Linked DNA regions of Homo sapiens. The protein of the gene in region 1 interacts with the protein of each later gene in a pairwise test. Each region holds a gene or a part of one and is shown on either strand. Other genes may lie near its edges. The genes, in order: NAT10 and THUMPD1.

Region 1 (10,332 bases):
TTCCTTCATCTGACCGGTCCCTCAGTATAGCTATTTTTTTTTTTTTTACATCTAATTTTACCTGTGTTCTTGTTCCTCATCTCATTCTCTTAAATACCTTCTTCAAGAAGAATGCAAGCTTGAAGTCAAGGGCCTTGTGGTACTACTTCTGGGGCTCCCACAGTAGCTAGAGCAAAAGGCAGCCCCCATTAATTAGTTGTTGATTGATTTTTGCGGGATCTTTATGTGGCCGGCAACACAAGGTTTACAAGTTGGGAAGATTGGCGAACTGGGAAGAGCTCAGGCTTTGGAGTCAGGAAGACTTGAGTGTGAATTCTGTCTGTCGTTTTTCTGCCTCGGGATATTTGAATTCTTTATACTTTCTCCTTTACGTATAAATTGGGGTCCTTGACAGTGACTTAGTGTTTTATAGTAAGACATATGCTAAAATCTGTTTGGATTGGAAGGTTAGAAGGGACAGTTAAGGTATGGTAAGTTTCAGTAAATGAGCTTTATGTTTATAATGCAGTAGGTACCAGAGTTTCTAAGTAGCATGTCACTTTTACATCTAAGTAGCATGTTACTTTTACAGTGATATTTCTGATGGTTTTTTTGATGTATTTATTGGGATGATGCAGTATTTTACTGTAGGTAATCACAGAACTTTTTTTTTTTTTTTTTTGAGACGGAGTCTCACTCTGTCGCCTAGGCTGGAGTGCAATGGCACACCATCTCGGCTCACTGCAACTTCCGCCTACCGGATTCAAGTGATTCTCTTGCCTCAGCCTCTCCTGCAGCTCCACTACCACTCCCGGCTAAGTTTTGTATTTTTAGTAGAGACGGGGTTTCGCCATACTCTTGAATTCCTGACCTCAGGTGATCCACCCGCCTCGGCCTCCCAAAGTGCTGGGCTTACAGGCATGAACCACCACTCCCGGCGAGAACTTTTGAGGTCTGTCTGTACAAAGGCTTCAATATCGTTTTCCCTAAAATGAGGAAACAGTTGGACACATTACATCATGGAATTATTCATTGATGGTTATTGATTTCCCTGACTTTATTAGTAACACGTGAATTTTTTAAGATTCCACAAAAACAAAAGAACAAAATAAAAGTCCCACCATCCAGAAGTAGCTACTTTATACTTTGGTATTTCCTTCCAGTCTTTTTTATTTTTCCCTCTGTTATGTGTATGCATAAGAAATGTTATCATACTTTATTCTGTCATGATCTTGTCATAAGCATCTATATCCATATCCTTAGTTGTTAAAAATGCTTGGCCCAGCATGGTGGCTCACACCTGTAATCCCAGCCCTTTGGGAGGCTGAGGTGGGCAGATTGCGAGGTCAAGAGATCGAGACCATCCTGGCCAACATATGCGCCTGTAGTCCCAGCTACCTGGGAGGTTGAGGCAGGAGGATTGCTTGAACCCAGGAAGCAGAGGTTGCAGTGAGCCGAGATCATGCCATTGCACTCCAGCCTGGCGACAGAGTGAGACTCCGTCTCAAAAACAAACAATGCTTTGGATATTTGGATATCTCCTTATGTATTTTAGTCATTCTTCTACTTTTTTGAATATACAAGTTTCTGGCTTTTAAAAAATATTTAATAGAGGTGAATTACAGGCTTTCCAGGCTGAGGGAAGGTTTTCTCACCTCCCAAGCCTAAGGTTTCCTGAGTTTAAAACTAGAGGCTGATGTCTTCCTGTGGAGCTCGTAGAGGGTTAAGTAAGACAATACTTATAGATATGCCTAGCACAGTCCCAGGCCCCACAAAAGGCAGCCAGCTAATGTTCCTTAGACAATCTAGTGCGCATGGCCAGTTGTATTTCTTTCTCTTTTAGTAATAATTTTTCACCATGCATCGGAAAAAGGTGGATAACCGAATCCGGATTCTCATTGAGAATGGAGTAGCTGAGCGGCAAAGATCTCTCTTTGTTGTAGTTGGGGATCGAGGAAAAGATCAGGTATGGCCTGGTAAATGCTTCCTGAATTACTTTTTATCTTGTCCAAAGAATCAGCATGTTTAAGCACTCTGCTGTTTCAGGACATAATGGCATTAAGATCTCTTTGGCTGGTAAGATGCCTAGTGGGAACCTTTCTTTATTTCCTGGAAGTGGTGAATTCTCTGTATTTAGATTGATTCGCAGACAAGCTAATACCTTTTGAAGCCTGGGGTGGTGGGTTGACCACAAAGTGAACTGTATGTGACCTGGCTTCTAGTCCAAACCTGGTCATTGCTCGCCTTAGAACCTTGGGCACTTCCCTTCCCTGGCCCTCAGTTTAGTTTCCACATCCGTCAAATGAGGTCTTAAGCCTGGCGGTCTCTAAAGTCTCTTTTGTGCCTGAAATTCTGTGACTTTTTTGTTTGGCAGGTGGTAATACTTCATCACATGTTATCCAAAGCAACTGTGAAGGCTCGGCCTTCAGTGCTGTGGTGTTATAAGAAAGAGCTGGGGTTTAGCAGGTAAGCTGGGCTCTTCATGTGTTTTATCCAACTTACAATTCCTGCTCATTAGTTAAATGCCAGGAAATGATTCCTTCACATATTTTTTAAGGGTCTTTAGTGGAGGTGCTATCTCTGAGGACAAATGGAGCTGATATCCTTTCTTCATTCCTGAAAATAAGTTTCAAATCATTTTCATGCTTTTTAAGTCACCAATCCAATGCCTTGCCTTCTGCATATGGTTTTCCTTCCTGCTTTTCTAGGCTGATTAAGCCCATCTCATTGCAAGTTCCTTCAAACTGTCTTTCCTACCTCAAATTTATTCCACTTTTCACTCTCTCTCTTTTTCTCCCCTTCTTTCATGGAGGGGGTATATGCCTCATCCCATGTCCAAGGAAAACCCCTTTATGTACCCTGTGTCTCCTCCCTCACCTCTTTCAGGACCTGTATTGTCTTTCCTCTGCTGGCCACCCAATACCCTTTGGAAACTTTCTCCTTCCTGTAAACATGCTCAGATTTTTCTATTATCAAAAGCTGATTACTTACATACCCAGATTTCTCTCTCAGGTTAGCATTTCCCCCGATTTTTATTGCCATATACCTTAAAACAGAAATCTTTTGCACTTAGTAGCCACTTTTGCAGTCTGGTTTCTGCTTCTATAATTGTGATCAAATTGTGCAGTTAGACATCCCCAGCAGCTTGATGCCTAATGCGTCAACTTTTCTCTCTCTTTCTCCTCCTTTTCAGAGCTCTGCCTCTTCTTCTACCAGTTCACTGCTGTATTTGACAGTTGGCTATTTGAAGCTGTGGTAGTCAAGACTTTTAGTCATAGATAACATACTTTCAACACAAATACAATTTGGCACAAAGGGATTTCATTGAGGTATATGGGATATTTCCTGGAATCCAAGGGGATAAGATTTCAGCTCTGCTCACGGGTGATCTAGAGTCACAGTACTAATGCTCCCAGCTCAGTTTGTCATCTCAGTGTATCTGCTCTATGCAGACCAACTTTCTCACTGCAGACCAGCTTTCTGTTTTCTGTTGTCCCCCTAGCAGAAACAACACTTGCGTTTTCCTTGTTTCAGGCCCAGCCATGTGGAAATCAGACTTTTTCCCAAAATTCTGGTGGAAAAATGCCCACACCTGGCCAGAGGAGGGTGGGGTTGGTCATAGCATAATACAAAGTTGGAAGTTCTACCTACAACTTTGTGTTTGGAGAAGTTTGGATGGGGTGGGTAGTGCTGTTCCTTGGCAGATAACCACCATGGCATCACCTAAGAAATAGTCTCCTTTTTTGGCTTCAGTGTCTTTACTCAGACCACCTTCCGGAGCTCTTCTCTTTCTCTGGATCTCGTCTCCTTACTCTAAACCTAGCTGGCTTGTGCGATTCTGTCCTTGAGCCTCTTCTAATTTCCAAATGTGCTCATCTCCGATCTGACTCTGAAAGCCTGTCTCCAGCTCTGGTTGCTTTATGCTGTGACTAACCTCCCTCCTTTTCTTTGCTCATGCTGTCTCCTCTGCTTGGAATGCCACTTCCACCTCCCCGGTATCACCTATTGAAATCCTGTTTCTCAGGGCCTGCCTCCTCCGTGAAACTTTTCCTGAGCCCCCCAGTCATACCTGGTGGTTCCTCTACCTTCCTCTGCACTTGTCCTTCTCCTATAATGTTTGCCAATGGATGCTTTTGCTTTAGGGTAAAGTCACTTACATACTGTGACTTACGTTCATTTTTTTTTCTTTCCCTTTTTTTTTTTTTTTTTTTTTTTTTACTTTCAGGTGATAAGCTTATTTAGTTAGGAGCCCTCTTCTATTTATCTTTGTATTTTCATACTTTTAACTGATTTAGCATGTTTATCATAGGTACTCAGTATACATTGAGTTGGATGTGTTGTTAACAGGCTCTAAAATTATTTTAATTTAAATTAGTACCAGAGGCTAAACTTGCCCCTGTCCTGTGGTCTTAAAGTGAAGGGATTCTGCCTAAAGGAAACCAGACAATCATAAGAGCCTTACTGATGAAATGTGAAAAGTGCAGAAAACCCAAAGATGAAAATAAAAAACATCTCACTGTCTAGGCATTGTCAGCATCTAGGTGTATCTTACAGGGATGTAGTTTTGAACCATAATTGGTATTCTGTTGTATATACTCTCATATTTAGAGAGGTAGGCATTTTTAATACAGATTGAGAATAAGGCCTGTTGTCTATCCCAGAATTTTAAGTTTTTAGGGCTTCTGGTTTTCACTATTTTTCATTTGGCAAATATGAGATGGGTGTGGAATTAGGCAGTTCAAAGTCTTCTGGGCAGATTTGCCTTTTGAATTTAAACCACCTGGCTTCACTTCTAAAAATCTACTTTTGTACCTCTTATAGCTCTTCTGCCCCACCCCTGTCTTAGTCTGGCAGAGCATTGTGTTCAAGCTAATGCCTGTTTGTAAGTCACGGGCTTAAGGCCTGAGCCAGAAGGGACAGTGGAGACAAACTCACCCACTGCCTTGGTTCATAGATGAGGAAGTGGAGGCCCACAGGAGGAAAGGCCTTTGTTCTAGCTATTAAGTTAGAGAACTATGGTAAAATTTTGATCAGCTGTAATCCTCCATTCTAGAACATTCTAATTCTCTCTTTTGGTAAAGGAAAGGTAAGTAGCAACTGGATATGCAGGGTTTTTAAGACCAAAAAAATTCAGGAATTCCTTAGAGATGTCCAGATTCCATTCTGATCCCTGTGTCCTGTATCATTATTGTCTTATGTAAGACCTGCCCTTGAAGACATAATCCCACATTCTCGGGGAGGAAGTCCTCTAGGAAGGATGAATAAAGTAACGTGCCATCACCTTGTCTTTCCTAGGATCTCTGGGGAACAGCACAGTGTAGTTGAAGCATTGGCTTATGACTGAGATAATGAGGCCACTCAGGTTTGGTTTCAAGCTCTGGCTTTGGCCAAATGTGAGGGTTAGCTACCCTATTACCCATCTTTTAAAGCAAAGTATTTGCTCAAGGTCACAGGGCAAAATAGCAGAGTTCACACATAGACTTATCACTTACTCCAAGCCCTTAAGCACTCTAATGCCTCTCATGCCTCTCCACTGCCCTCCACCTGAAGTGGGCCTCACACTTTCAAGTTCCCTACTAGCTCTGAAAGTCTAAGTGGGTGATCACTGAGCCTTTCCCCTGGTTCCAGCTCTTTAGCTGCTCTGGTTAACTGGCTCTCATGGGATTGGGGGTGTGTGATTGCAGTCACCGGAAGAAAAGAATGCGACAGCTGCAGAAGAAAATAAAGAATGGAACACTGAACATAAAGCAGGACGACCCCTTTGAACTCTTCATAGCAGCCACAAACATTCGCTACTGCTACTACAACGAGACCCACAAGATCCTGGGCAATACCTTCGGCATGTGTGTGCTGCAGGTGGGTGGCTTCCTCTAACCTGTGATTGAAGTCAGAGTCTTGAGGGTTGCTTGGGCTGCCTGGCTTTCCACTGGGAACAGATGTACAGTAAGGAGAGGAGAGTCCCATGTTCCCTATGCCCAAGCATTATTAGTGGAAGTCCTGGCCACTTTCCAAAGTACACTCGGTCACCTACCCCATATAAAAAGAGAATTTTAAATCAGCACTTGTCTAGAGACACCAGAACTGAAGTGATGAGTTATTATAACGGGTTCTAACTAGCTAAAGCTGATAAAGCAAATGCCAGAGACTTTGAGTGCCTCTAGGACCCTAGGTCCTTATTGGCATTCACCAAAGACTTTTTTTGTCCAGTGAGCAATGGGACTTGTTTTCCAACCGGATATAGACCAATGCACTTAAATGTCCTGTCCAGAGTGCCTGAGTGGCATACCCACCATGAAGGCCCCTCTCCCCTTTTCTAGCCCTTAAAAACCCCTCACTTTACCTCTCAGAGACTACTTGGTGAATTTCTGCACTGGTGTGTATTCTCTTGCCTGGCAAGTTAATAGACTAAGTTTCACTTTGTGTGTGTGTGTGTGCATGTGTGTGTAAGCACTGGTGGTCTTTGTTTTATTCTTTGTTTCTTTGATTCCTGTGCCACCTCCCTTCCCCATTCTCCCAAAAAAGACAAGACAAAATTAAGCACAAATCCTCACATTTTTGTGTGTTTATCATATACACTTACAACTGTGCCCATTATTATGTCAAGTTACATACCTTGCAAAATATGGGTTGTCTCCTATACTGCTGGCTTGCATCTCACCTTGGAGGCCAAGAAAGAGGGCATTATGCCTCATTTTCACCTTTACTCAGGGAAATGCCCTGGGTTATCACTGATTGGTAGGGAGTGGTCTTCTACTTGCTGCCATGATCAATTGCCTGAATAATGACTCCTGTGAGCAGTAGCTCCCCCATGTAGTATAGTTTTGTCAAACAGGTTTGAGCTATAAATGTCAGAAAATGTAAGATGTTTCTGAAATTCAAGTATGAATCAGTGAAGGTTGGAAAATTTGTTTCCAAATAGGATTTTATCAGAGACATTTTTGACATATAAAACTAACAACGTCTCTAATAAGAGACCCGTTTTTGGCATATAAAACCAGGTATTCGTATATTCGAGGGTTTGGCCCTCTTCTGTGGTACCCCTGTGTGTGTATCCTGGGAAGTCAAGGTGGGAACAGGTATGGTCTTGGCTTTGTGCTCTGAAGTCTTCTTTTTGCCTTATCACCTGGCTTTTGGTTAAGAGTCCCTTGGGTTGGGCCAGGCGCGGTGGCTCATGCCTGTAATCCCAGCACTTTGGGAGGCTCAGGTGGGTGGTGAGCCAAGATTGCGCCACTGCACTCCAGCCTGGGCGACAGAGCAAGACTCCATCTCAAAAAAAAAAAAAAAAAAAAAAAAGTCCTTTGGGTTGCTATTTGCATGACCAGCCCTTTCTAACGCCCCCTTCTTCCAGGATTTTGAAGCCTTAACTCCAAACTTGCTGGCCAGGACTGTAGAAACAGTGGAAGGTGGTGGGCTAGTGGTCATCCTCCTACGGACCATGAACTCACTCAAGCAATTGTACACAGTGACTATGGTAAGCATCTGTTTTTTAACTTAATTGTGAGGGTTCAAGTAAATCTGTTTTTGCTGTGTTCTGCTTTCTTTAAAGAATTCCTGTTGGGCAGCTCCAGTGAGTAGTCAGCACAGCCTCTGGGCTAAGAGCTCTTTGATTTTAACTAATGAAAAAGTCACTACAGTTAAATCTCAGGGTCCATGAGTATGCCTAGGAATCTCTGAATTTCACCTTTGTTTTCAGGCACTTGCAAATTCTACACCAGTGAGATTCAGATATGATACAGCTTTTATGTAGTTAAATTTTCTGGAATGATATTGTACAAGGAGCAATGCCAGTGCCTAAATTTGTGTATTGCAAAAAAAGGACCATGTGCAGACTGCTCACTGGCCCTTATCCTAATGGATGACGAAGGAACATTTGCCAGTTGTACTCCAGTTTGGCAAGAATTTCAACTCCAGCAGAGATTGTGTTCTCCCAAAGCAAAAGACACTGACTGAGGACATGGTGAGGAATTAGGGATATGTCTCACCTGATGCAGAGCTGGTCTCCTCACTTTATCAGCGTTGCCAAGTCAGTGTTCAGAGGCAAGTTTTAAGTCATGCCCATGTCCAGCAGCTCAGTAATGGTGGTCGGATTGGACTTAGGGTTTCCTGAGCTGCATTTATCTGATGAAATGGACTTTCCTCAAATCTTAGGGGCTGTTTCCTGTCATTACTTCTCCCTTCATCACTTGCACTACAGCCCTTTTGGCCTCCTCAAATGTCCTCAGACATGCCCAGCACACACTCCTGCGAGGGCCTCGGCACTTGCTGTTCCCACTGGAATGTGCTTCCTCTGGACCTCTGCCTGGCTCGCTTCCTCATTGCATTCAAGCCCCTGCTCAGATATCACCTCATCCATGTGGTCTTTCCTCACACCCTGTTTACAGTAGGCAGCTCCGCCTGTCACTCCTTAACCGGCTTTATTTTTCTTCAAAGCACTTGACAATGACCTAAAGTTATTATTATTATTTGTCTGTCCTCCTGTACTAGTCTCTAAATTTCACTGGAGGGCCGATCACAGTGGCTCACGCCTGTAATCCTAGCACTTTGGGAGCCTGAGGTGGGCGGATCACCTGAGGTCAGGAGTTTGAGACCAGCCTGGCCAACATGGTGAAACCTCGTCTCTACCAAAAATACAAAAAAAATTAACCAGGTGTGGTGGTGCACACCTGTAATTCCAGCTACTAGGGAGGCTGAGGCAGGAGAATTGCTTGAACTCAGGAGGCGGAGGTTGCGGTGAGCTGAGGTCACGCCACTGCACTCCAGCCTGGGCAACAGAGCAAGACTCCGTCTCAAAATAAATAAATAAGTAAATAAATTTGATGGGAACAGAGAGTTAGTTTTCTTTGCTGTTGCATTTCCAGATCTTAGAAGAGTTCCTGGCATTTAGTAAGCATTCCTTAGATAGTTGAGAGTGAATGAATGACTTTGTGCTCACATCAGTTTGTTCTTCCTCTCCCTCTGACATAGCTACCTACTTACCCTTCAGGCCTCAGCTTATCTCAGAGAGGCCCTCCCTCACTACCCTACATAAGTGACCCCCACTTGCTATCCGTGCAGTCTATATTTCATATGTAGCATTTGTCAAAATTTGTATTTATCTACTAATTTTTCTTCCTCCATCCATTATACTCCAAGTGCCATGAGAACAGAGGTCATGCTTTGTTCATTAGTGTATGCACAGCATATCTGGCACACAGCATGCCAATTTTATGAAATAAATGAATATAACTTAGGATGCTAGGAAAAATGTGGAAAAGTGAAAGATTTTAATAAGCAACGTTGCATTCAGTGTCTGATCCCAGTTTCAGCAAATACCATTTGGCACAGCAGTGTGTGTGGGAGTGATTTTGTTTCCAGCAAGATTGCCCATGTCTCCTTGGATAGAGCTTTGTATTTGGACCCTGGTCCTCAGCACTGTTTGCATGCCTTTGTTAATGGATGTTGTCTTTCTTTGTTAGGATGTGCATTCCAGGTACAGAACTGAGGCCCATCAGGATGTGGTGGGAAGATTTAATGAAAGGTAATTCTATAGTTCCCCCCAATTGTGGGGCAGCCACATTGGGAGGGACATTTTTATCTTGGACTCAACTGAAAACTTTGCTTTTATATTGGGGAAAGTAGTACAATATTCCAAAAATGATGAGATTCTTGACAGCAGCAGCAGTTGTGAGACTAACTGGAAGCAGTGAAACGTGGTGGAAAGTTGGAGCCAGGAAACCTCAATTTTGTCTTGCTGCTGGCCTTGACAGCTCAGTTAAACCAGGTTACTCTCTCTGGTTCTTAGCTTACTCATCTTTTAAATGAGTGATTTTTCTGGATCACTGCTTCCCAGAAGATATTTCATAGAGCAGTAGTCTTTCCAAACTTTTTATTATGAATATGACGTACTGGCATAGTAAAAATGATTAAGAGAAATATGGGAGGTGGGGTGAGATGTAATTAGAGGCAGAAAAAGGCGACAAAGTGTTTCTTCTGAGCAAAGGAACACCCATAATTTCAAATATGGTGTACGGTTTGTTATCTGAAATTAAATTTGTATGTATTTATTTTTATTTTATTTATTTATTTTTTTGAGATGGAGTCTTGCTGTGTTGCCCAGGCTGGAGTGTAGTGGTGCGATTTTGGCTCACTGCAACCTTTGCCTCCCAGGTCGAGTGATTCTCCTGTATCAGCCTCCCGAGTAGCTGGGATTACAGGTGCCCGCCACCACACTCGGCTAATTTTTTGTATTATTATTATTATTTTTTTGAGACAGAGTCTCGCTCTGTTGCCCAGGCTGGAGTACAGAGACACGATCTTGGCTCACTGCAACCTCTGCCTCCCGCATTCAAGCAATTCTTGTGCCTCAGCTTCCCA
Region 2 (10,325 bases), on another chromosome or scaffold:
TCCACCTGCCTTGGCTGCCCAAAATGCTAGGATTACAGGCGTGAGCCATCATGCCCAGCTAGACTCTTACATGTACACTATACCTACCCTGAAATTTATATTTCTTATATCAGTGTTTTACTCAAGACTAGTGTTCTGCATTGGTGGAATATGCAGTCCATAGCATGATTTGAGTGGTAAATGGAATTATCTTTCTGTAACTTATTAAACTGAGATGCCACCATTGGTGATTCATTCTTTGGAGCATTGACTGAAGTGAAAGTAAGAAGCAGGCGGATGATCTAGAAGTGCTCAAAGAAGTAAAACTAAATAATAAAACTGTTGCAGGAATTAAGGGACAGGAGAGACCAATGGGTGGGACAGGAGGATTTTATTAGGTGAGCACCAGCCCAGCGGATTAACACCCAAAGGCTGAGCCCTGAACAAAGACAGGGCTTGACTTTTATACATGAATTTGAAAGGGGGTTGGCCAGTTTGATGGTGTGAAACCTGTAGGGTGGGTAAGCAGCTTACAGAAGCAGAACAAAGGCAGTTTGTTAAACAGTGACAGGTTTTGCAACTGAAGCATATCTTGTGACCTTGCCATGCTGTACAGAAGGGAAAAACAGGAACTTATAAAACTTTGCAAAATAATTATGAGAATGATAAGGGGGAAGGCGGAAGCTGAAAGAGAAGAAAAACTTGTTTTTCTCATCCCTGCTCTGGGATGGCAGGGAGAGGCTCTGGAACCCATCCCTTGAGGGCCCTGGCTCTGCAGATAGTGTTATCAAAGCCCTTCCAGAGCCCTGTCTATCGCTGGGCCTTGCAGTGAGTCAGCCTCCAAGAAAACTTGTTTTTTTTTTTATATCTCCTGCTTCAAAACAATTACTTTGGAACATAGATTATTCAACCAAATCTCAAAGGAGTGGGAAGGAAGTACCCACAAAACACCAGGAAAAGTTTAAGAAGAAAGACTTGTATGTTTAGAGTATAAAATTGAAAGATAAAATTGGAGGGAAAGAGATTTAATGACTTTTGCCCTTAAGAACATAGGCCCTCAAAGTGCCAAGTTTGCCATAGAGAAACATATCTGTCAAAACTGGGACCCAGGCACTGGTGGAATGAAATGAATTAGAGGTGATGGGGATCAGTATAGGACACTCAGCAGGGCTGAGTAGGTACAAAGGCCAGGCCAAATTTGACTCCTCTAGGGGCAGACTCAAGTTCACATTGGTTTAAAATTGGGTTCCAGCCTGGGTGATCAGGCTGTTGGGTGAGTTTCTCACACAGCGTCTGGGTGTAATGAAAGCACAAATGTGACAAGTGCTGCCAGTGAGGCTACAAAGCTAGTGAAAGGTGGGATGTCATTCAATCAAATGTGAGGCAGAAACCAGCTGGCAGAGGTAAGGCATGCCAGTCTTACGCATTTTATGTTATTTTACTTTACGCTATATATACTTTTAAATTCCCCTTTTCCACAGAGGAGGTCTATAGAACAATAAAATAAAACCCCTTTTAGTCTCCTAAGTAAAAGGATTCAACAGCTTTTAGTAAACCAAAAATATAAAAGAACCATTAAATTAGAGAATAATAGACAAATAATGAGGTTAGGTGATCAGACTGAGGGATGGATACTTACATCAAAAAGAAAAAAACAGGCTTCCATGATTCACGACTGAGTCTGAAAGCAGCTGTTTTTAAGCACATGTTGACTGAACAGTGGCTGAGAGCTAAGCACTTGTCATGACTGATCTTACTGGATTTTCCTAATAACCCATGATGTGAGTATTATTATTTCCATTATTATTATTTTTAAATCTAACAGGGAATCTAAACCTTGGCTTGGGTAACTTACTCAGAGTTTCACAGCCAGGTCATGGCCAAAGCAGAATTTGAACTTGGTTTGGCTTTAGAACCTGGGCTTTTAATCGTACTTGATACCTACTCTGAAGGCAGCAGATATTGGGAATCAAGTCAGAAGGAGACTGGGATTCACAGCCAGGATATCCATTCCCTGAAGATGCTGGGTAACAAGAGACTAAGGCAGGAAGTGTGGATGGGGAGCAAGGTCAGAACACGAGGAGTGTCTAAGAGCATCTCCTACCTGGGTTCTGTACTGAACATACAAGTAGAACTTCAGGGACAGTAACTTTGAAGGTTAGGAAGAGAAACAGAAAGGGAATCTAGAATGTGTCACACCATTCCCCCCTTGCTTGGCTGTGAGGCCTTCTGAATATCTGAAGCAAATAGGTTAATTAAAACAAAAGGTAACATCCTCAGATCACCTTAATCTACTCTAGATGGTGCCACAAGGTGCCAAGTGGTCTCTATTTATTTATTTATTTATTTATTTATTTATTTTGAGACAGAGTCTATTTTGCCCAGGCTGGAGTGCAGTGGCACGATTTCAGCTCACTGCAACCTCTGCCTCCCAGGTTCAAGCAACTCTCGTGTCTAGCCTCCCAAATAGCTGGGATTACAGGCATGCACCACCATGCCCAACTAATTTTTTTATTTTTAGTAGAGATGGGGTTTTGCCATGTTACCCAGTCTGGTCTTGAACTGGCCTCAAGTGATCTACCCTCCTTGGCCTCCCAAAGTGCTGGGATTACAAGCGTGAGCCACCGTGCCTGGCCCCAAGTGGTCCCTTCTAAGAGAGGTTTTCAAGCGACAGAGTCCCTGGTGTCTAAGGATAGACACTGGGCCATTGTCCATGTCTGGGAGGTAACCTAAGGAGGTGAAAGTTCACACAGCCATGAAATAATAGATGTAGTCTAAAGAATAAGCAAAAAAGAACAAAGAAGAATAATAAGGAATAAATGAAGGCTGAGTTATTTAGAGCTGGACGAGGGCCTGTTTCAGAAGAGGAAGTAAGTGGACGCAGCCCCGGCAGCTGCCACAGGATGAGTGTGTGATTTAGATAACTAACGTCTAGACTGAGAGCTACAGGGTTGCATATTTTTCTCACTTCATTGGATATTCTCTGCACAGTCAGCAACCATGAAATACAATAAACTGTTAAAAAACTTTAGACAAATTAAATTTAACAGAATTAAATTGCACAAGGAAGGATTCTCAAATCAGGCAGGCCCCTGACCCACTAACCGGAATAGGTTTAGAGACATCCTGGTGCTGCCACATGGTCAGAGATGATTTATGGACATAAAAAGAAAAGTGAGGTGCAGGAAATGGAAGTAAGGTACAGAAACAGCCCAATAGGTTACAACTCAGTATTTGCCTTATTTAAACGTGGTTTGGCTGGGCGCAGTGGCTCATGCCTGTAATCCCAGCACTTTGGGAGGCGAAGTGGGCAGATCTCTTGAGGTCAGGAGTTCAAGATCAGCCTGGCCAACATGGTGAAACCCCATATCTACTAAAAATACAAAAATTAGTTGGCCGTGGTGGCATGCACAGGTAATCCCAGCTACTTGGGAGGCTGAGGCAGGAGAATCGCTTGAACCCAGTAAGTGGACGTTGCAGTGAGCCGAGACTGCACCAGTGCACTCCATCCTGTGCGACAGCAAGACTCCGTCTCAAAAAACATAAAAATAAAAAACATGGTTTGAACAATCAGCCACCTGTGAGTGGTTGAGCATGGCTTCTGTGCTTGGCTGAGATTTGGCTACTTGTTACAACAGCCATTACAGTCTGTTTACACATCCAATTAGGTTATAGTTCACTATGTATGGAGAAACCTGTAGGCCAGGGATGTCCAATCTTTTGGCTTCCTTGGAAGAAGAATCCTCTTGGGCCACCCATAAAATATACTAATGCTAACAATAGCAGATGAATTTTTTTTAATTGCAGAAAAACCTCAGAGTGTTTTAAGAAAGTTTATTAATTTGTGTTGGGCCGGTTGAATTTCAAAGCTGTCCTGGGCCACATGTTGACTGTGGGCCAACAGGTTGGACAAGCTTGATTTAGGCCAAACTTAAATTTAGCCTAAAGCTGCCTCCTCACATATTTTAACAAAACTGAGTTTTTGTTTTTCAAGTTTGCCTCCATATAGTACTCAAATATGCTTGGGACTTGAAATATATATATTTTAACTTGTTATCTGTATGCTAATATTTGATATCCTAAGGACAGGTGGCAGAGTGTGGGCAACTGAAACCCAGCCAGCAGAAGAGAGAGAGATTTGGGGGAAGGCCAATGCCAGTGTCATGACACTGCTCTTCACAAACAACTGAGGACTTCTAGAAATCTCTGCTGTGCAGTGTCCACCAAAGAAATTCTGAAAATTAAATGCTGTATTGAATACACAGGTAAAAGCAAACAATAAGATGATAAAATTTTTGGACATAGTGGTAGATCTGGGGTTAGAACCTAGGGTTTATTGACTGTGAATTCGGTGTCCCTTTCAAAATATCAGATTACATCTTTTAGGGCTTTGTAGGAACTCAAATCTGCTAAGAGGTTTGTACCTGAAGAGTAGTATGAGAAGCACTTGTTTTTTAAACACATTCTTCAAAAGTGGCATCTTCAATGATTTTTAAAAAGACAGTAACATGATAAGTTGCCAAGACTATGGATAAAAGGCCGCAACGAAAGCAGCATGAAACAACACCAGCCAACATCCTTGGTTTTAAGTGAAATAGAAACATAGCCTGGAAAATTGAGGCTGAAATGGAATTTACTGGAAGCCTTTTGAGTAACTGTTCTATGTGGGAAATGCGCGAGGGGAAAAAACAAGACAAAATACGGCCAGGCGCGGTGGCTCACGCCTGTAATCTCAGCACTTTGGGAGGCCGAGGCGGGTGGATCACGAGGTCAGGAGATTGAGACCATCCTGACTGACACGGTAAAACCCCGTCTCTACTAAAAATAAAAAATATTAGCCGGGCGTGGTGGCGGGCGCCTGTAGTCCCAGCTACTCGGGAGGGAGGCAGGAGAATGGGGTGAACCTGGGAGGCGGAGCTTGCAGTGAGCCCAGATCGCACCACTGCACTCCAGCCTGGGCGACAGAGCGAGACTCCATCTCAAAAAAAAAAAAAAAAAATAGACAAACATACAATACCTTTGGGGGTAAACAACCTTTATCCCACGTAAATGGCAATGCAGATATAATAAGCAAATGATATAGTAAGCAAATTGCAATGGGAAGGGGAGAAGGGAAAAAAAAAAAATATATATATATATATATATATTTACACGCACCAGACTATGTTGGATTCATCACCAGACCGGGAAGCAACAGCCTGGGCTCCAGAGTCAGCCACTTGTCCGTGCACAGAGGAGGAGGGGTCTCAAGAAGCTTCCGTGTGGCCTGGGACCCTGGCTCATTTTTTTTTTTTTTTTGAGACAGAGCCTCGCTTTGTTGCCAGGCTGGAGTGCAATGGCACGATCTCGGCTTACTGCAACCGCCGCTTCCCGAGTTCGAGTGATTCCCCTGCCTCAGCCTCCCGAGTAGTTGGGACTACAGGTGCGCGCCACCACGCCTGGCTAATTTTTTGCATTTTAGTAGAGATGTTGGTCAGGATGGTCTCCATCTCCTGACCTCGTGATCTGCCTGCCTTGGCCTCCCAAAGTGCTGGGATTACAGGCGTGAGCCACCGTGCCCGGCCGACCCTGGCTCTTTTTGTAATGCGTTGATTGGCATGAGGCCCAGTCACGAGGGCCCTTCTCGACTGGGCTCAAGGAACACATAAAGGTCAACTTGTTTCTGTGATTGTCTGTTTTTCAATAACTCAAGTACAGGTACAGAGTTATCTGTAACAGTGCTGGATGAATGAATGCCTCAAGGGGCTCATGCAACCTGTTACGGGACTTGACCATTGTGTCCACGTTCAATTGAGTTCAAATTTAATATTTAACTTTTCCTCCACAGTAGCTGGCAGAATTATAGGGAAGGCTGGAGGAACAGGTACCAAGGTTGGGTGGAAGAAGCTATATGGCTGGAGCCAGCTTCAAGGGCTTGAGGAGCCACCGACACCACTTCCAGAATGGCTGCTATGCTGCCTCTACTGGATTCAGGTTGCAGTCGGGAGGCGGGGCAGGAGGCGGGGCTTGGGCGGGTATCACTCCACCCCTTTCACGATTGCAGACCGGCCTTAGGACCTGGCGCAGCACGGAATGAGGCTTCGAGGCCGGCTAGGGGAGGCCGTCGCTCATATCCGACGTCACCAGTTCGCGCCGGCGATAGACGAGGACGCCAACAGCAGCGGAGAAACGTTTCTCTTTCCTCTCAGTTTGCGCACACCATGGCGGCCCCTGCCCAGCAGACTACTCAGCCTGGCGGCGGGAAGCGCAAAGGCAAGGCTCAGTATGTGCTGGCCAAGCGCGCTCGGCGCTGCGACGCTGGCGGGCCCCGTCAGCTAGAGCCCGGGCTACAGGGCATCCTCATCACCTGCAATATGAACGAGCGCAAGTGCGTGGAGGAGGCCTACAGCCTCCTCAACGAATACGGCGACGACATGTATGGGCCAGAAAAGGTACCGGTCCCGGGGTGGGCGGGCGGGCCGGCTGCCAGGCCTTGCGGGAGGAGGGAAGGGTGGAGGGATGGCTGCTGGTATGGGCATGCGCGCCTCGGGTCGTCGGCGTGACGGCTGTAGGGGCGTGGCCTCGCCGGCGTTTCCGTCCCTAGTCCTGAGACGCTCGCAGACTTCGGTGCTATCGGTTTTGTGCTTGAAGTGCTTGCACCTTTTCTTGCCATCAGTAACCACGGTAGCTCCCATTACTTTTATTTTTATTTTTGTGAGACAGGGTCTCGCTCTGTTGCCGAGGCTGGAGTGCAGTGGCGTGATGATAGCTCAGGGAAGCCTCGACTTCTCCTGTCTCAGCCTCCAGAGTAGCTGGGACTATGAGTGCGCGCCACCACTCTCGGCTAAGTTTTGTAAATTGTAGATAAGGGGTCTCACTGTTTGGCCCAGGGTAGTCCTAAACCCTACACTCAAGCGATCCTCCCGTCTCTGCCTCTCAAGGTGCTGAGATTACAGGCGCGAGCCACTGAGCCCGGCCTACCTCCCACTTAAGGATTGCTCATTGAGGGCCAGGCGGTGTGCTGAAGCTCTTTCAGAAACACATTTTTCATGACAGCCTCGTGAAGTTGGAGTAATAATGTGTTTACCTGAAGCAATAATATTTCTGAAATAATAGGTTTACTACTAATGCTAGTTACTGCACTTAAAATACATTTTAGAACGTAAAAACTTTTACCAATATCACCTAAAGTCTTAGTGTTTGGAAATCATATTACTGGCTTAGAATCTGGACCAATACACACACGCACACTGAGGGATTAAATGAAGAAGGGTAATACAGAGGGAATTTAAATTCACGGCTCATCCTCTACTAGCTTGGGGACTCGGACATGGGCACATTATTTGATGCTGCTGAGCTAGATAAAAAAGAGAATACTTTAAGACTGGCTAGTGAGTTGCTTATGTACATAAAATACATACTGGTATGTAATAAAGTTTCTGTAAATGTATACAATTATTATTGTGCCTGACTGGCAATTTCGTTGGGCACTAGGGGGCAGAGAGCTGGGCAACAAGCACATATCCTGTCTACTCCTGTACTTTAAGCAAATTCTTTTTTTGGAAGCGGTCTTGCTCTGTCACCCAAGGTGGAGGTTGGAGTACAGTGGCATGCTCTTGCTCACTGCAACTTCCACCTCCGGGGCTGAAGCAGTCCTCCTGCCTCAGTCCCCGAGTAGCAGGGACTGCAGGCATGTGCCACCATGCCCGACTAATTTTTTGTATTTTTTGTAGAGACGGGTTCTCAGGCCATGTTGTCCAGGCTGGTGTCAAATTCCTAGGCTCAAGGGATCCGCCCACCTCTGCCCCCTAAAGTACTGGGATTACAGGCATGAGCCACCATGCTTGGCCAAAATTATTGAACAATGTATTTCTGTGCCTTGTTCCTTAATAGAACAAGAGTAAGGGTTTTTAATTCCACAGGTATTTGGTCTAATCTCACCAAAAGGACAGTGTCGTGTGAGGCACACAGATACCTGGTCAACGTGTTAAGGTCCACCCTAAAATGATTGATCTGGTCAGCACGTTTCTCTCTGCCTCAAACTGTCAGGATGCTTTTGAAAACATTTTCAAATTTTACATTCTATAGTCTGCGGGAATTCCCTCTTCCTCCACATTTTTTTTTTTTTTTTAATTTTTTTGAGACAGAGTCTTGCTCTGTCACCCAGGCTGGAGTGCAGTGGTGCAATCTCAGCTCACTGCAATATCTGCCTTCTGGGTTCAAGCGATTCTCCTGCCTCAGCCTCCTGAGTAGCTGGGATTACAGGCGTCTGCCACCACATCGGGCTAATTTTTGTATTTTTAGTAGAGACAAGGTTTCACCATGTTGGCTAGGCTGGTCTCGAACTTCTGACCTCAGGTGATCTGCTTGCCTCTGCCTCCCAGAGTGCTGGGATTATGGGCATGAGCCACCACTTCCGGCCTTGCTCCACGTTTTGAAGGGTGTGGTGTCCCAGCTTCGTAAAAAAAGCTTTATTATCAATACTGAGTCAGCTGGGCATGGTAGCTCACACCTGTAATCCCAGCACTTTGGGAGGCTGAGGCGAGTGGATCACCTGAGGAGTTTAAGACCAGCCTGACCAACATGGCGAAACCCCATCTCTACTAAAAATACAAAAATTAGCTGTGTGTAGTGGCATGCGCCTGTAATCACAGCTACTTGGGAGGCTGAGGCAGGAAAATTGGTTGAACCCAGGAGGCGGAGGTTGCAGCAAGTCAAGATCGCACCACTGCACTCCAGCCTGGGAGGCAAAGCGAGACTCCATCTTTAGAAAAAAAAAAAAAATCAATACTGAGCCACCTGCCGCCAGGGACTTCACATAAATAATTACTTATAGTGTTTAAATGTGAGCTGTTGTGTCATTTCTGCTCATTAGTTTTATGCAAACAGTTTACAGACAAGGATCAGCAGCCCTCTGGAAGTGAGGGAGAGGATGATGATGCGGAGGCTGCCTTGAAGAAAGAAGTTGGTGACATTAAGGCATCTACAGAGATGAGGTTAAGAAGATTCCAGTCAGTGGAAAGTGGAGCAAATAACGTTGTCTTCATCAGGACACTTGGGATAGGTGTGACAAATACTTGCTAAGATTATCGATCTCATAACATCTGGGTATCTTCCTGTCTCAGGGAATACTGCTTACAAAATGGCTTCTTGGGCATGACTCAGTTAATCATTTGATGGCAGCTTCTGTACACTGTATTAGCAGTTGGCCTGTGGAGAGGTAGAATGGGGTGGTGGACGTAGCATTGGCTTATGAGTGGAAACCTGGCTTTGCTGCTTCCTTCGTATATAACTTAAGGCAGAACTAGAGTGCCAGTTCTGTGTAAATAAGGGGCAGCTGCTACTCAGCTCCAGCCAGTTGTTGCTCTTTGGGAATGCAGGGCCAGGTATTTGAATTTCTCAAAAGAAGTTTGAAATCTGGAGTTTTTTTGTTTTTCAGTGTGGTCAACTAATTTACAAATTTTCGGAGCAGCCCCAAATATACTTGTATGTAGGCAAGTTGCAGCCTGAGGACCTCCCTTTCATGATGTTGTGCCCAGCATGGTTCTGGGATTCCTCTTGGGTCTGAGATTTAGACTTGTGTGCTAACTTAGCTAATGGATTAATTACATCTTTTAAAGTGACTCACAGAATTTTTTTTTTTTTTTTTTGTAAAAAAGTGTGTACTGTTTAATGTACTCTGTTGTTACAGGAAAACAACAGCATGGTGTTACGGTTGGATAACTCAGGACATCACAAAAATGTTAACAACGGTGTCTACCTAAACAGTCATTTCTAGTGCAAGCAGTAATAATGATGAAAAGTTAAAATATATTAGATACATTATAGTACGTATTAGGCACTGAAGAAATACTGTTTGGAAAGAATGACTAGGTAGATTCATTTAAAATTCATTATGAGAATTTCTTCTGTCAACTTATGTCATTGCCAGTGAAAATTCATTTTAGAGTTCGATCTTTAAGATGTCTGAGAAATTATCTTCTTAACTTTTTTTTTTTCTTAAGAGCCTGAGAAATTGGTGCATCATATTCTCCAGGATATGTACAAAACCAAGAAAAAGAAGACTCGAGTTATTTTGCGAATGTTACCCATCTCAGGCACATGCAAGGCTTTTTTAGAAGATATGAAAAAATATGCAGAAACATTTTTGGAACCCTGGTTTAAAGCTCCAAACAAAGGGACATTTCAGATTGTGTACAAATCTCGAAATAACAGTCATGTGAATAGAGAAGAAGTTATCAGAGAATTGGCAGGTATGTTTCTCTTAGTGATTTTCCATAGGCATTCAATGGTAAATACTTGTTTTTTAAGGATTTTTTTCTTTTTAAAGATTTAAGGCTTACATTTTTGAGTGTAGAACAAATATA

What was found.
Region 2: the proteins of NAT10 (region 1) and THUMPD1 interact in binary tests that used the Homo sapiens proteins (3 or more experiments, as listed by UniProt).

What each region holds. Positions count from the first base shown.
Region 1 is NC_000011.10:34,106,389-34,116,720, forward strand, and holds part of NAT10 (RNA cytidine acetyltransferase), read left to right. Parts: intron 1-1,822; 5' UTR 1,823-1,837; coding exon 1,838-1,945; intron 1,946-2,353; coding exon 2,354-2,445; intron 2,446-5,663; coding exon 5,664-5,835; intron 5,836-7,327; coding exon 7,328-7,450; intron 7,451-9,434; coding exon 9,435-9,496; intron 9,497-10,332. UniProt on the Homo sapiens protein: RNA cytidine acetyltransferase that catalyzes the formation of N(4)-acetylcytidine (ac4C) modification on mRNAs, 18S rRNA and tRNAs.
Region 2 is NC_000016.10:20,737,594-20,747,918, reverse strand, and holds the start of THUMPD1 (THUMP domain-containing protein 1), read left to right. Parts: upstream 1-6,100; 5' UTR 6,101-6,179; coding exon 6,180-6,410; intron 6,411-8,847; coding exon 8,848-9,022; intron 9,023-9,962; coding exon 9,963-10,211; intron 10,212-10,325. UniProt on the Homo sapiens protein: Functions as a tRNA-binding adapter to mediate NAT10-dependent tRNA acetylation modifying cytidine to N4-acetylcytidine (ac4C).